Regions from separate parts of the Homo sapiens genome. Here region 1 is linked to region 2. The links come from fine-mapping of genetic effects on gene expression. A gene starts in region 2. The other region holds a variant in brackets. All regions are shown on one strand. Distances are between the middles of the regions. Region 1 overlaps C1orf185 (chromosome 1 open reading frame 185). Region 2 holds the start of RNF11 (ring finger protein 11).

Region 1 (8,338 bases), 110 kb before region 2:
TAGGCAAGTTACTTAACTTCTCTGTGTCTCAGTTTCCTCATCTGCAAAATAAGGATAATTTCACCTCCGTAGAGTTGTTGTGGGATTAAAGGAATTATGTGAAAAAGCACTCAGAATAGTGCCTGATCCTGTAGTGAGCACCGTACAATTCTACTATTATTTTTACTGGAAGATTTTAAGCATGTGGATGTAAACATCAAATTGATTCTAAAGGTTATTTCCTCTGACTTTCGAATGAAGGACAGTTTGAAATAGAGATTGCATTGCAGAGAAAAATTGTTTCTATGTATGCATTTAATATTAATTTATTCAGTACCCATCACGTACTAGGCATTTTGCTAGGTACTAATGATATAATAATACCATCATACTTAACGATGTATAGACACTAATAGACAATTACAAAAGTGTCATGAGTGCAATTTTGATTAGGTTGTTTATTATTCATTCAACAAATATGTAAGAAGTGCTTATATGCCAGGCATTGTATTAGGTCACTGGGAATTTGGAGATGACCAAGGGAGATAATAGCCCCTGCTTTTATGAAATTTTTAGTGTAGTGGGAGAGAGAAATAATGCACAAGTAAACACAAAAGATAATTCAGGATTCTTTTATTTATTTTTTAATTGACAAAAATTGTATATATTTATCATGTACAACATGATGTTTTGAAATATGTGTACTTTGTGGAATGGCTAAATAATGTTAGTTAACACGTGTGTTATCTCACATACTTGTCATTTTTTGTGGTGAGAACGCTTAAAATCTACTCTCTTAGTGATTTTCAACAATACAATACATTGTTATTAACTATAATCACCGTGTTGTACAATAGATTCCTTGAATCTATTCCTCTTATCTAACTGAAATTTTGTATCCTTTGACCAACATCTCCTCTGTCACCCTGCCACCCCCAGCCCCTGGTATCCTGCCATCCCAGCCCACCATTCTACTGTCTGCTTCTACGAGTTCAACTTTTTTAGATTCCACATTTGAGTGAAATCATGGGTATTTGTCTTTCTGTGCCTGGTTTCTTTCACTTAATATAATGTCCTCCAGGTTCACCCTGGTTGTCACAAATGACAAAGTTTCCTTCTTTTTTAAGGCTGTTATTCAGGATCCTTGATATTCAGTGACAGGAACCTCATTCAAACTAGAATAAGAAAAAAAATAGTATAAAAAGTTTAAGGTAGTGCTAACCTCAGCCAATTTCAGTACAAAAGAACTCTTTTGTATTGTCCCTGTTTTTCTTATCTCAATTTCTGCCTCTGTATTGGCTTCTTCCTCTTCTACTACAGGCAGACCTCTATGGGGCAGGAGGATAAAATGATAATAAAAATAGGTTTAATATAATAAAAAACTAGAGAATGATTTCTAACAAAAACTTTTATTGTGAAATATGACATACATACAGAAGAATACATATACACATACACATGAAATTTAAATAATAAATGGATTTTTTATACTCACTACCCAGAATAAAAATAGAATGTTACCAGTACCTTTGAGATATTCTGAGTCTTATATATCTGTCACACCTCCAACTCCCACCCTCCACTAAAGGAACCACTATCCTGTAATTACAGCTAATCATTTCCTTACTTTTCCTTATAGTTTTGCCATAAATGTTATAGAATAATATATTATTAAATTTCATGTGTTTTAGACTCCATATCTAATCTTTCCTTTTTTGTGCAGTATTGCATTTCTGAAATTCCTCCAGTTGATGTATGTAGCCATAGTTCATTGCTTTTACTGTTATCTGGTATTCCATTGTGTGAAAATATCAAATTTTCTGTGGTTTACATTAAGTTTGGAGTGGTTTTCAGCTGTTTCTCTATGAAATCTTTATAGAGGCTATACCTAAGAGTAGAATTGCTGCATTATAGGGTAAGTGCATATTCAACCTTATTAAATAATTCCAAATTGTTTTCCAAAGTAGCTGTGTCAATATATGTTCCCCCAACATATATATAAGTGCACAGATTACTTCATATCTTCAACAATCTTGGCATTTTCAGGCTTCTAAATTTCTGACAACCTAATGGATGTGTAACAGTATCTATAGTCTTCCTACCTAATTTTCTTCAAGCCATTGTAGATTCATAGCAAAACTGAGCAGAAAGTACAGAGTCCCACTATATTCTTTCCCCCACACAGGCACAGCCTCCCCAACTATCCACATCCTACACCAGAGAGGTGCATATGCTACTATTGATGAACCCACATTGACACATAATAATCCAAAATTCATAGTTTACAATAATGTTCACTTTTGGTATTATGTAGTCTATGGGTTTTGACAAATGTGCAATCATGTCATTACAGTATCATACAGAATGGTTTCATTATCCTAAAAGTCCTCTGTGCTTCTCTGATTTATCCCTCCCTCTGCTCTAACCCCTGGCAACCCCTGATCCTTTTACTGTTTCCAAAGTTTTTGCCTTTTCCAGAATAGGCACATTTGTCATATAGTTGGAATCACACAATATGTAGTCTTTTCAGATTGGCTTCTTTCACTTAGCAATGTGCATTTAAGCTTTCTCCATGTATTTTCATGGCTCGATGGCCTGTCTTAGTCTGTTTTCTGTTGCTCATACCAGAATACCTGAAACTGGGTAATTTATTAAAAACGAAATGTATTTCTTACAGTCTGGAGTTCGGAAGTCTAAGGTCAAGGAGGGGCACATCTGGTGAAAGCCTTCTTTCTGGTAGGATTTCTGCAAAGTCCTGGGGTGGCATAGGGCATCACATGGTGAAGGGGCTGAGTGTGCTAGTTCAAGTCTCTTGTCTTCTTAGAAAGCCACTAGTCCCACTCCTGTGATAACCCATTAATCTATTAATCCATTAAGCCATTAATGGATTAATCTATTTATGACCCAATCACTTCTTAAAGGCCCCACCTTCTGAATACTGCCACATTGTGGATTAAGTGTGGATTAAGTTTCAACATGAGTTTTGGAGGGACAAATATTGAAACTATAGCCTAGCCTATTTCTTTTTAGCACGGAATAATGTTCCATTGTATACCATAGTTTATTTATCCATTCACCTATGGAAGGACATTTTGGTTTTTTCCAAGTTTTGGCAATTATGAATAAAGTTGCTATAAACATATGTGTGGAGGTTTTTGTATAAACATAAATTTTCAACTTATTTGCATGAATACCAGCGAACACAATTATGGGATCTTATGGTATGAGTGTGTGTAGTTTAATAAGAAAGTGCCAATTTTTCTTCCAAAGTATATCACTCTGCATTTCCACCCGCAATGCATGAGAGTTCCTGTTGTTCCCCATTCTCACCAGCATTTGTTGTTGTCAGTGTTTTGGAGTTTCACCATTCTAACAAATGTGTAGTGGTATCTCATTTTAATTTGCAATTCCCTAGTAACATGTGATGTTGAACACCTTTTCATGTGCTTATTTGCTATCTATCTTCTTCGATGAGGTGTCTGTTCGATCTTTCATTCATTTTTAATTAGGTTATTGATTTTCTTATTGCTGAGTTTTAAAGAATGTAAGTTTTAAAGAACTTATATATAACAAGTTTAAAATATATATTTTATACACACATGTATATATA[T/C]ACACACACACACACACACACATTATATATATATATAGAGAGAGAGAGCGAGCAATAATCCTTTATCAGATATGTACTTTGCAAATATTTTTTCCCAGCCCATGGCTTGTATCTCTTGGTATTTCACTGTAGTTTGTTTTTTTTTTTTTTTTTTTTGAGACAGTCTCGCACTGTTGCCCAGGCTGGAGTGCAGTGGCGTGATCTCGGCTTGCTGCAAGCTTCGCCTCCTGGGTTCACGCCATTCTCCTGCCTCAGCCTCCCAAGTTGCTGGGACTACAGGCGCCCGCCACCATGCCCGGCTAATTTTTGTATTTTTAGTGGAGACAGGGTTTCGCCATGTTGGCCAGCCTGGTCTTGAACTCCTGGCCTCAAGTGATCCGCCCACCTTGGCCTTCCAAAGTGCTGGGATTATAGGCGTGAGCCACTGTACCTGGCCTCTTTGCACTATTTTTAAGGTGTGTTTTTGTTGCAGGGCAGCCGCCTCAAAACTGGGGTTTAGCCTAGGAGAAAGCCAGGAAAGAATTCAAGGGCAAGCTGGTGGTGTTGGACAGCAATCTTTTGTTGAACATTACTGCTCTTTGCAGATCAGGGCTAATTCATAGGCAGCACATCCAGAGACAGCAACCTATGGGCTCTTATCAACTGTGATTATACTCAGTAAACCCACATTCAATTACATGCAAATTAAGGAGTGGATCAATGCAAATGGAGGAATGGATTACTTAGAACTTTCTAGGAAAGGGGCAGTAATATCTGAGTCATTGCCATGGAAAGTGGTCATAACTTCTGGGTCACTGCCATGACACTGGTGATAGTGTCTTGTATTAATGAGCAATGAAGGCAGCTAGGGATCACTTTTGTCACCATCTGCTGGTTCCTATGGGTTTCTTCACTTTATTCTGTCTGGACAAGATCCTGTTTTGGTCAGCAGGGTTGTGACCAGAAAACAAGTCCTGCTGGCTTCCTAACCTCATTCCCCACCTCAGAGATTACTCTTCCTTAATCTTAAAGGGTCTGTGGAAGGGCAGAGGCCCATCTTCTGTAACTGCTTCTTGCTCATTTTATGGGTATAGGCCCTGCCTAGCATTGGAGGAGTAAAAATCTCTGGATACCTTACCCAAAGGGCCCAACGGGAAGGTGTTTTTGTTTTCAGGGTCAAAAGATGGGATGCGGTTGGAAGCCTTGTGCCAGCATCATCTTCATGTGTAATCTAGAAAGTATAAACTTTACTAGAAGGTTAAACAAGAAAAGGAATTAGAAGGAAGAGAAAAATTAATGCTCCAATGCCCACCCACAGCATCACATTATCTATTTATGCATTTGTGAAATAATAGCTTTCAGTCTTTTAGGGGGTTATAAACATAAGTCTGGTATCCTCCTCTTAGGCTTGTGAGGACTTATAAGAAACAGGCTTAATCCTGGACATATATCCAGCTAGTGATTCCCTTGAAGTTTAATAGCAGTAGGGTTTTTAGTTTTAAGTTTTTAGTAACACTAAGTCTTCCAGGAGGAGGCAATACTTTATTTCTATATTCTTGAAGGGCCTTGTAAACCTATCCTAAATTATAAAGGGGGCATAGTGCTGGATTGTAGGAATGAGTCACCATGCCCAGCTGTAATTAACTTTATAGAAGCCTTGCACATCTTATTTTGTTACCAAGCAATGAGCATTCTGTCTGACATGCATAGAAACCAATACTATGGCACCAGCTTTTTAGAAAAGAAAAAGCTTCATTGTAAGGTCAACTGGGCAAGGAGTTAGAAGGCAATGCTCAAATATGTCACCCTGAGCTGGAGTCTGGGAGCAGATTTGAAAGACAGAGAGTAACTATGAAGGAGATAGAAAAATGTAACTAGGCATGATCTGATTGGGTCCCAAAGAGGAGGTGCCAGGTCATTGGGTTTTAAATTTGTACTTCAGCAAAACAGGAGCTAGGTGCGGTGGCTCATACTTGTAATCCCAGCACTTTGGGTTGCTGAGGTGGGTGGATTGCTTGAGCTCAGGAGTTCAAGACCAGCCTGGGCAGCATAGCGAGACCCCAGCTCTAAAAACAAAAAACAAAAACAGGGAACCCCCTCACTTCTTAATTGGGTCCCTGTTCCTCAACTCAAGTTACTTAGGTTCTGCACGTGGTTAATTTTTCCATTCTGGTCAGCTCTGGGTCACATATCAGGCATGATTGGTTCATCTGGACATGCTCAAGTGTGACTTGCAACCTGGGGGCCCACTGCAACTGAGAAACTCAGTATTTTGTTACAATTGCTACTGACAAAGTATAACCAGAGTGAACTGGTTCTATAATTACATTGTTAGTTTTTATTACTGGAATTTTTTTGAGACAGGGTCTTGCTCCGTTGCCCAGGCTGGAGTGCAGTGGCAAAATCATAGGTCACTGTAACCTTGAACTCCTGGACTCAAAGGATCCTCCTACCTCAGCCTCCTGAGTAGCTGGAACTACAGGTACACACCACCATGTCCACTTTAAAAAAAAAATTGTAGAGATAGAGTCTTGCTGTGTTGCCGAGGCTAATCTCGAACTCCTGGGCTCAAGTGAGCCTCCTGCCTCAGCCTCCCAATGTGCTTATTACAGGTATGAGCCACTGCACCCAACTCGTATTACTGAAAAATGTATATGTTTGTGCTTTTGTGAAATGATTTTAAGTAACCTTTTAATTTTAGAATAATCTATGATTTATAGAACAGTCATGAAGATAATATAAAATTTTCCTATACCCTTCACCCAGTTTTCCTCCAGTGCTAAAATCTTAAGTTACCATAGTATATTTGTCAAAACTAAGAAACCAACACTGGTACATTATTATTAACTAAACTCCAGATGTTATTTAGATTTCGCCAGTTTTTAAGTGAATGTACTTTTGCTATTTCAGGACCTAATCCAGGATCCTACATTGCATTTGTTTCTTTAATTTCCTCTGCTCTGTAACTGTATCTCCATCTTTCTTGTTTAACCTAACCTTTACAGTTTTGAGGAGTGCTGGTCATGTTTGTAAAATGTCCCTCAATTGGGGTTTGTTTATTTTTTTTTTCATTATTTATAACTTGGGTTATGTATTTTGGGGAAGAATACCACTGAAGTGAAATTAATGTGATTTAAAAAATATTTTATTGATACAATTTTTAAAATATTTTGAGATTAATTACCTACAATAGAATGCAAAGAATTTAGATATTCCACTTAATGAACATTGACAGCTGTATATACATTCAACCAACACCTAAAACAAACTACAGAACATTTTTATCACCTAAGAAAATTCTCTCATGTCTGCTTTCTAGTCAATTCCTCTACCCATCCCAGGTATCAGCTTTCTGATTTTTTGTCATTTTTTTTTTTGTGTGAGATGGAGTTTCGCTCTTGTCGCCCAAGCTGGAGTGCAATGATGCAATCTCAGCTCACTGCAACCTCCGCCTCCTGGGTTCAAGCGATTCTCCTGCCTCAGCCCCGGAATAGCTGGGACTACAGACGCATGCCACCAAGCCCAGCTAATTTTGTATTTTTAGTAGGACAGGGTTTCACCATGTTGGCCAGGCTAGTCTCGAGCTCCTGACCTCAGGTGATCCACCTGCCTTGGCCTTCCAAAGTGCTGGGGTTACAGGTGTGAGCCACTGCGCCCAGCAGCTTTCTGATTTCTGACAAGGTTTAGTTTTTATCTGTTCCTAAATTATATATAAATTAAATTATATCTTTTATGTCTGATTACTCTCACTTAATAAAAGTTTTGGGGCTCACCCATGTTATTGTGTGTGTTAGAACTTTGTTCTTTCTATTGATAAGTGGTAGTCCATTATAGGAACATTTTATGCATTCTCTTGTTGACGGATATTGGGTTGTTTTTAGTTTTTGACTACTATGAATAAGGCTACTCTAAACAACCACATACTTTTAGTGAACATATATTCTCATTTTTCTTTTCTTTGTTTTTTTTTTTTTTTTTTTTGAGATAGAGTCTCGCTCTGTCACCCAGGCTGGAATGCAATTGCGTGATCTCAGCTCACTGCAACCTGCACCTCCTGGGTTCAAGCGATTCTCCTGCCTCAGCCTCCCGAGTAGTTGGGACTATAGGCGCGTGCCACCACGCCCAGCTAACTTTTTGTATTTTTAGTAGAGATCAGGTTTCACCATGTTGACCAGGCTGGATTAGAACTTTTGACCTCCAGTGATCTACCCACCTTGGCCTCCCGAAGCACTGGGATTACAGGCGTGAGCCACCGCGCCCAGCCTGTATTTTCATTTTTCATGGGAAAGTACCTGAACCTGGAATTGTCAAGGCTTGGGGAGACATACATGTAAATTTATAAGAAACTGCTGAGCAGATTTCCAAAGTGATTGTAACTTATTTCACTCCCACCAGCAATAAGTGAGAGTTTCAATTTTCCATGGACTTGCCAACATATGGTGGTGTTATTAGTATTTTTAATTTTAGCTATTTTAGTGGGTGTAAAGCCAGGCACAGTGGCTCACTCCTGTAATCCCCGCACTTTGGGAGGCCAAGGTGGGCAGATCACCTGAGATCAGGAATTCAAGACCAGCCTGGCCAGTATGGCGAAATCCCATCTCTACTGAAAATAAAAAAAATTAGCCAGGTGTGGTGGTGCTTGCCTGTAATCCCAGCTTGTCAGGAGGCTGAGGCAGGATAATCGCTTGAAATTGGGAGGCAAAGGTTGCAGTGAGCAGAGATTGTGCCACTGCGCTCCAGCCTGGGTGACAGAGCAAGACTTTGTCTCCA
Region 2 (8,338 bases):
TGTTCACCTACTTGTCTCATCTACTTGAGTTTGAGCTATTTGAAGGCAGGGACCATGTCCAAGCCATTAATGGGCTTCAAATGCTCCTCCCATCTTCTGGTGAACAACTAGCCTTGTTTGTTTGTTTGTTTACTGAGACGGAGTCTCACTCTGTTATCCAGGCTGGAGTGCAATGGCGTGATCTCGGCTCACTGCAACCTCCGCCTCTCAGGTTCAAGTGATTCTCCTGCCTCAGCCTCCTGAGGAGCTGGGATTACAGGTGCATGCCACCATGCCCGGCTAATTTTTGTATTTTTAGTAGAGATGGGGTTTCGCCACATTGGCCAGGCTGGTTTTGAACTCCTGACCTCGTGATCCACCCGCCTCGGCCTCCCAAAGTGCTGAGATTACAGGCGTAAGCCACTGCACCCAGCCCAAGCTAGTTTTAAACTTAACAATATAACTTATTTTCACAAGGCACTATAGAACTTTTCAAGGGCTTGTGTCAGTGTTACCCACCTGTGGAAAAAAAGAATGAAAAACAAAACTTAAAAAAATAAATCTGGCCTGGCGAGCTGGCTCACGCCTATAATCCCAGCACTTTGAGAGGCCAAGGTGGGTGGATCACCTGAGGTCAGGAGTTCGAGACCAGCCTGGCCAACATAGTGAAACCCCGTCTTTACTAAAAATACAAAAAATTAGTTGGGCGTGGTGGTGCGCGCCTGTAATCCCAGCTATTCAGGAGGCTGAGGCAGGAGAATTGCTTGAACCGGGGAAGTAGAGGTTGCGGTAAGCCAAGATCGCACCATTGCACTCTAGCCTGGGCAACACAAGCAAAACTCTGTCTCAAAAAATAAAAATTAAAAAAAATTAAAACTAACTAAATAAATCTATGTCTGGCCAGGCATACAGTGGCTCACACCTGTAATTCCAGCACTTTGGGAGGCTGAGGCGGGAGGATCGCTTGCGCCCAGGAGTTTGAGACCAGCCTGGGCAACATGGCAAGACTTCGTCTCTACCAAAAACAAAAACAAATGCAAGGCATGGTGGTGTGCATCTGTAGTTCTAGTTACTGGAGAGGCCTGAAGCAGGAGGATCACCTGAGCCCAGGAGGTTGAAGCTGCAGTGAGCCTCGATCAAGCCAGCCTGGGTGACAGAGTGAGACCCTGTCTCCAAAACAAACAAACAATGTCTACAAATTCTAGCACTGTGTAAATATTATGTCAAATAATTGTATAAATTATTATTAATAAAAATTTCTTTAGGTTTGACAATAATTTGTGGGGTAAATTTTCTCACTTTGTAAAAATTCCAGGGTACCTCTGATTTCTGGTAAATTTAGCCAATCATAAATTAAATGAGTTCTTGGAAGCTCAACAATTCCAAAACCAAAATTGTGAGTCAGTTTGTTCTTTCTTTCCTTCTTTCCTTTCTTTTTCTTTTTCTTTCTTTCTTTCTTTCTTTCTTTTCTTTCTTTCTTTCTTTTCTTTCTCTTTTCTCTTTCTCTTTCTCTCCCTTCCTTCTTTCCTTCCTTCCTGCCTCCCTTCTCTCTCTCTCTCTTTCTCCTTCCTTTTTTTTTTGAGACTGAGTCTTACTCACTCCCTCGCCCACGCTAGAGTGCAGTGGCACAATCTGGGCTCACTGCGCTGCAACTTCCACCTCCCAGGTTCAAGCGGTTTTCCTGCCTCACCCTCCCGAGTAGCTGGGACTACAGGCGTGCACCAGCACACCTGGCTAGTTTTTGTATTTTTAGTAGAGATGGGGTTTCACCATGTTGGCCAGGCTACTCTCGAATCCCTGACCTCAAGTGATCCACCCGCCTTGACCTCCCAAATTGCTGGGATTACAGACGTAAGCCACCACGCCTGGCCCAAAATTATGAGTCTTTTCAAAAATTTTATATCAAAAAGGTGATATTTAATGTGGAATTTGAGTGCATTTAAATAAGATAGTGACTTCGTAGAATAGGGACTGCAGAGTAAGAGTGTTCAGACCCATTCGAGTTTAATATAGCCCTACCTCTAAGAATCCTTTCTGTTCCTCACTCAAATGAACTAATTGCTGTCTTTCAGTTCCTCTAAAAACCTTGGGGTCCGTGGCAGGGTGTGGGCTTAGGACTCACCTGATTACTTGTCTTCCCAGGTGGTCTCTGGGCTCTATCAGGAACAAGCCAGGTATGATCATCCTTTTCCCCAGTCCTTAGCGTGGGGTCTGGTATACACACGCACACACAACTTCAGTAAATGGTGAATGAAACGAAAGGCAGTCAAGATCCACCTGTTGAATGAACGTCTATCAGGAGCACTGTCATCCTTCTTGCTTCCTTCTTTTGCATATGTTGTTTGAGCTGCTCATTCAACCAAGGAGAGAGCATACTCTACCTTGGGCAGTGTGCCAGCCTTGCACAGAGGGACAGATGATTCAGCTTGATCAGGCTGTGACAGAGAAAAGCTCAGGGTCTGAGAGCACACAGGATGCGACTAACCCAGACTGGAGGGTCAGGAGAGTCTCCCCAGGGGAAATGAAGTTGCATCCAGAAGGATTCCTGAGAATAATGATTAGCCTGATGAGAAGCAGAAAGGTTGGGAGTGGAGGGAAGTGGGTTTCTGTGAGAGAAACAATATGGACAAAGGCCCCAGGCAGAGGCAATAGTATTCCAGATAACGAAAAGCATTTTAGAGAGTCTAGTTTAGAATTTGTGAAGGAGGTGACAATGCTGCTAATGAGATTGAAAGGGAGTCAGATTTGTAAACCATTTAAGGATTGTCTTAAGGACAGCCTTGAGGAGACACTGAAGGTTTTAACAGGAGAATGACATGATCCGATTTAAATTTTAAAAAGATAACTCTGTCAACTGTGCCAACAGTGAATTGGATGTGGGCAATGATGAACTCAGGAACAGCTGAGAGTCTATTGCAGAAGCCAAGGTGAGAGATGATGGTGGCTTGGACTTTGGTGCTGGGACTGGAAAGAAATGAACAATCTGATATACAACTGGAAGAATAATCTCTCTGGCTGTGATGTGGAAGGATAAGGACGTGATTGGACAGGCAGGGATGGTTCAGTAACGAGCTAGGACTTTATTGTGAAGGGATAAAGGGGAAGCTTTTAACATTTTAATCATGGGACTGATCCATTCCGATATGGGTTTATATAAATAGACCGCTTGGCGGAGGGTGGTGAGAAGACTGTCAGGCAGTGCACAGGTAAGAACTGAGCCCTAGACGGGGCAGGAGCAATGAATGTGGGGAGGCGCGGGAGACGGGAGATTGGTTTCGGAGCCAGGTACGGAGCCAAGCAGTCAGAGAGAAGCAAAAATTGACGCAGCACCGAGAACAGCTGCTAGTGGAGAGGGGGATGGGCGCCGCCGGAGCCGCCCTCGCCTCCTGGCGCCGGGGGCGGGACCAGAGCACGCACGGCGCGATGACGCAGTGCCCGAGCCGGCCTCGTTCTGGCTGCCGCCGTCTCGCTGAGGCGGAGTAGGATGAGGCCCGCGGCCGTGGCTCCGGCGTCGGCGGGGGCAGCAGCAGCTGAGGCAGCAGCTGAGGCAGCCGCGACGGCCGCGCCCCCCCCCGCTGACCTGGATTAGGCCCAGCAGCTCCGTGGCCGCCGCCGCCCCGCGGGGGGGCGGGGTGGGGAAGTGCTTCGTCTCCCCGCCCCCCCCCCCCCATCGCTGCCTCGCAGGAGGCGAACGCCGCGACCCCAGCGGAGCCCGCGGCCCAGCCTTGATCCCCCAACCCCGGGGGCTGGCATGAGCGGCCCCTCGGCGGCACCGTGGGGCGGTGGAGTCGCCTCCGCCTGATCCCCGGCCTGTCGCCCGACCCCACCTCGCCAACCGAGGCGGACCGCGGAGTGTGCGAACGACCCCACCGCTGCTTTCTCCTCCCCCAGATCACGCACCCCAGCTCCGGAAGATGGGGAACTGCCTCAAATCCCCCACCTCGGATGACATCTCCCTGCTTCACGAGTCTCAGTCCGACCGGGCTAGCTTTGGCGAGGGGACGGAGCCGGATCAGGAGCCGCCGCCGCCATATCAGGTAGGGGAGGGTGTGTGTTGGGGGGAGCGAGTAGAGGCAGCTCTGGCGGAGATTGAGGGGGCTTCGGGGCCGTCTCTGCCCCTGGCTTCGGCAAGGCCTGGCCTGGGCGGCATTGACCCCTTAGGGCTGGATCTGAGGGCATTTGCTCTCTGATCTCAGAGTAAGGTTGATTCTTCGCCTGCCCTCGGGCACCGTGTGGGGATGATACCCTCTGCCCTTGAGTTCTGGGATCAGAGTATGTGATCACATCCCCTTGGCCAGTGTCTGGTGGTTCGCTTGTGGAGTTTGGGAGTGACATTTTCCTGTCTTTATGTCTGAATCGTATGATTTCCTCATCGCACCGCCAACTGGATTATGGGTTCTGGATAGGTGGTTGCCAAGCACCACCCCCCCGCCCCATTTATGTTTTCATGTGTGGTCGTCCTCTTACCCACCTCCCTCGTCTTTTTGTTAATTGGATCTGGCAGGTTTTCCCTCTGCTTGGGAGACGGATCTCCAAGTGGTGATTTTAACCCTAGCGACATCGAGTTACTTGTGTGTGTGTGTATATATATATATATGTGTATATATATATATATATATATGTATATAAATTTTAATCCCTCCTCTTTTTGCTCCACCCATATGACACACCTTTTAAACGTGCTGACTTAAGAAAACTTGATTAGCTTGAACTTTGGAAACCTTTAAACCTGGCTTGGGAAATTCCTTCGGTTACTCGTGTTCTCCCTTTGTATCAAAGACTCTCCTAAATACGTTGTACTGCTTTTTGTACAATAATCAGTAGTCCCAGATGTGTTGCAGAATTCGAGTGAAGACCTCTTAAACTCAAAATAGGTATGTGGATGTTATAATCCACAATAGATGTGTGAAAACCTTTCCTGTACTTTTTCCATTTTAGATGATATTGAATACACCCTTTTCCAGAGGGCTTCAATAGTAGTAGTGCTTAATTTCTTCCTGAAGAGTTTAGTTTTCTGACTGGGTAGGCTCCTTTGTTGTTTCATGTGATGACATCATTATCTAGTGTTTTCTTTTCTCATTCCTGTGTAAACCAATGTCTCATCACACCAGAAAAACCTGATCATATATATGCTCGTTTTCTGAATAAAATTCTTCTGGGGGCATTTCATATATACCAGTAAGGTCCAGTCTTGATTGTGGTATTACAGAAGCCTCCATGACTTCTCCCTCTTACGTTCTATATTCCAGGCCTACCAAATACACCAGGCTGTTCACAGCTTTGTTTTGCTCCAGTTCCTCTCTGCTTGGAGCCCTTCGCCCGGGTCAGCCAGGTGGACATCTAATCCTCTTTGAGAACTCAGCTTTCATGTCTGAAGTCCCAGCATTCCCTTCCTTCCCAGCCCGAATCCCTTGTGTCCCCACTGAAACCTCTACACTTCCATAAGCAATATCTATAACACTTTAGTGTTGTATCTTTGTTAGATGTGTGTCTCATCCTTGTAATCGCCTCCTTCAGTGCAAGCTGCGTGAAGGTAGAGAATCTGTGTTTCCGGTTTGCTGTTGTATCCCTCGCATCTGCCTCAGTAGGGACTCAGTAACTGGGAGATAAATTACGAGTAAAAGCCCTTGAGAACAGGGACTCTCCCCTCGCTCAGTTTCTGGCACATAAGCACCTAAATGCTGAATTAATTAATGAAGTTGAATTTAGTATTTTCTGTATTTACACAAATATTTTTTCCAAAGTAAGTTGTCACAGGGTAGTCTCTTAAAAATCAAAGCTGAATCTGGGTGTCTTTACAAGTACCTTTGAGTGAAGCAAGCAAGCTATGTTTATCCTTCACTGTCTTTCCCTCCTATGTTTACTATACAACAAAAGTGCTTATTTAACTTTTTTTTTTTAATGAGATGGAGTCTCGCTCTGTCACCCCGGCTGGAGTGCAGTGGCACAATCTCACTGCTTACTGCAACCTCCACCTCCCGGGTTCTAGCGATTCTCCTGCCTCAGCCTCCTGAGTAGCTGGGATTACAGGCGCGTGCCACCACACCTAGCTAATTTTTGTATTTTTAGTAAAGACGGGGTTTCACCATGTTGGTCAGGCTGGTCTTGAACTCCTGACCTCAAGCAGTCCACCCACCTCAGTCTCCCAAAGTGCTAGGATTACAGGCATGAGCCACCGCATCTGGCATGAAGTTTTTATTTTAAAATCTCTTATGCTCCCTACCCTCACCCCCTTCTATTTTTAAAAAAATAGAGACAGGGACTCCTATGTTGCCTAGGCTGGTCTTGAACTCCTGGCCTCAAGCAAATTCTCCTGCCTCCTATCCCCTTTCTTAATTGAATATCTTTGACTTGTTCTCTTTCTCCTATCCTTATGATAATTGTACTATTAAAGGTACTAGAATTTATGGAAACTGTGTTTGCCTTTTCCAGAAGAACTAGGTGATGATGAGGGATGAGGGGTTTTTGGTGTCATGAAGGAACTTTTTTTGGAAATGTTATATTTTTGACAGTGGGAGTTTTTTATGGTTGCAGTTTCCTGAAGTGAATGACGCAGACTAATATACAAATTCAGTATCAATCAGAAGAAAATTACTTTAAAACATGGGAGCATAAAAAGAAACTTTTGGAGAAAAAGTATTGTCCCCCACCCCCAAAGAAATAAGATCTGTCTTAGGAATGGTTATTTTAGATGATCTGAGAAACAGCAATCCAAGGTTATTTATTCATTTATTTGAGTTGAGAATCTCCCTCTGTCATCCAGGTTAGACTGGATTGCTCACTTGGCAGCCTCAAACTCCTGGCTTCAGGTGATCCTCCTCCCTCAGCCTCCCAAAGACTGGGATTACAGGCGTTAGCTACCTCACACAGCAGATTTATAGTATTCTCAGTTGATAAAAGTAACTTTTTCAACAAATTATATGTAATTAACAGTGAATAGCTGATTGTAAAGGAACATGTTCTCTTGAGGTGAGTAGTTAAAAGATGTCATTGTTTGCTGCTTTATATGTACAATGTACATATAATGACAAGAGCCAGTTACAGTTATTTCCTATTAACATCTGACAAATTTGTTTTTATTTATTTTTGCCTTAAAGTAAATCCCTGCACCATTATGATCCAAGTTTGTAGGAAGTGTATATTTCTTTCCATGGTTTCTTTTGTAGCCTCCTAACAGTTATCCCTGCTTTCACCCTTGTCCTCGCTAAGGCCTGTCCTCAATACAACAGCCACAGTTATTTTGGTAAAACTGAGCATGACAGTCTCCCCAACCCTCTGTGTGGATCCTTGTTTCATTCAAAGTAAAAATCAGATTCCTTATAGTGTCGCATAAACCCTACATAATCTGTACCCCTTGTTTCCACGCATGTCCCTTGACACCTACAGCTAACCCCTTTGTTGGCTTCCCTCCAGCTTCCCTGTCCTCATTGCTATTCTAGGACCTTTGTCCTCCTTATTCTGGAATACTCTTCCCCAGATTTCATGGCTGACTGACTCCCTTACCTCCTTCAAGTCTTTTCTCACTGCCCCCTTAAACCTTCTCTGACCACCCTGTTTGAAAGTGCAACCTGCCCTAATAACCTGGAAGTCCCTCTCACCCTGTTGTTTTCCCCCCCAATACCATTTATTACATTCCAACATGTGTTAGAAAGTTGCGTTGTCTATTACCTGTCTTCTCCCACTAGGTAGAAAGGAGGAAAGGGGATTTTTTTTTTTAATTGGTGTTTCCTAAGTACTTATAACAGTGCCTGGCACATGTTAGGCATTCAGTAATTTGGTTGAACGAATGAATAGATTTCTTTTAAATGAACTAATGTATTTGAGGCAGGTATAGTTGCACTGCTTACAAGAACTCTGCATATTCCTAGTGCCATTTTTGCTTCTATATTGTAGATCAGGTTTTTTTTTGTTTGTTTTTTTGTTTTGTGACTGGGCCTCCCTGTGTTACCCAGGCTGGTCTCTCTCTGTATATATATGTTTGGGTTTTTTTGTTTTCTCTTTTTTGAGACCAAGTCTCACCTTGTTGCCCAGCTAGAGTGCAGTGGTGTCATCTTGGCTCTGCCTCTTGGGTTCAAGCGATTCTCCTGCCTCAGCCTCTGGAGTAGTTGGTACTACAGGCATGCGCCACCAAGGCCAACTGATTTTTGTACTTTTGGTAGAGATGGAGTTTTGCCATGTTGACCAGGCTGGTCTCAAACTCCTGACTTCAGGTGATCTGCCCACCTTGGCCTTCCAGAGTGCTGGGATTACAGGCGTAAGCCCCTGAGCCTGCCCTTTATATTTTTTAAATTTAAAAAATAGAGACAGGGTCTCATTATGTTGCTAGTCTCAAACTCCTGGGCTCAAGGGATACTCCTGC

What was found. PIP is the estimated chance that this variant, and not a neighbour inherited with it, causes the effect.
Region 1: its variant is the best candidate, but not a certain one, in a credible set for the expression of RNF11 in whole blood (INTERVAL, PIP 0.71).

The regions. Positions count from the first base shown.
Region 1 is chr1:51,120,357-51,128,694 of GRCh38, forward strand. The region is part of intron 3 of C1orf185 (chromosome 1 open reading frame 185); the gene reads left to right. Among named protein-coding and RNA genes, the nearest start is that of C1orf185, 22 kb to the left of the region's middle. The variant T/C (reference allele first, on the strand shown) is at 3,590.
Region 2 is chr1:51,232,864-51,241,201 of GRCh38, forward strand. It overlaps RNF11 (ring finger protein 11), which reads left to right and starts at 3,410. Exons shown (of 3, transcript NM_014372.5): 1 at 3,410-4,016. The coding sequence starts at 3,894. LINC01562 (long intergenic non-protein coding RNA 1562) reads right to left here and starts at 2,233. Exons shown (of 2, transcript NR_147076.1): 1 at 2,102-2,233. RefSeq lists a silencer at 3,195-3,674.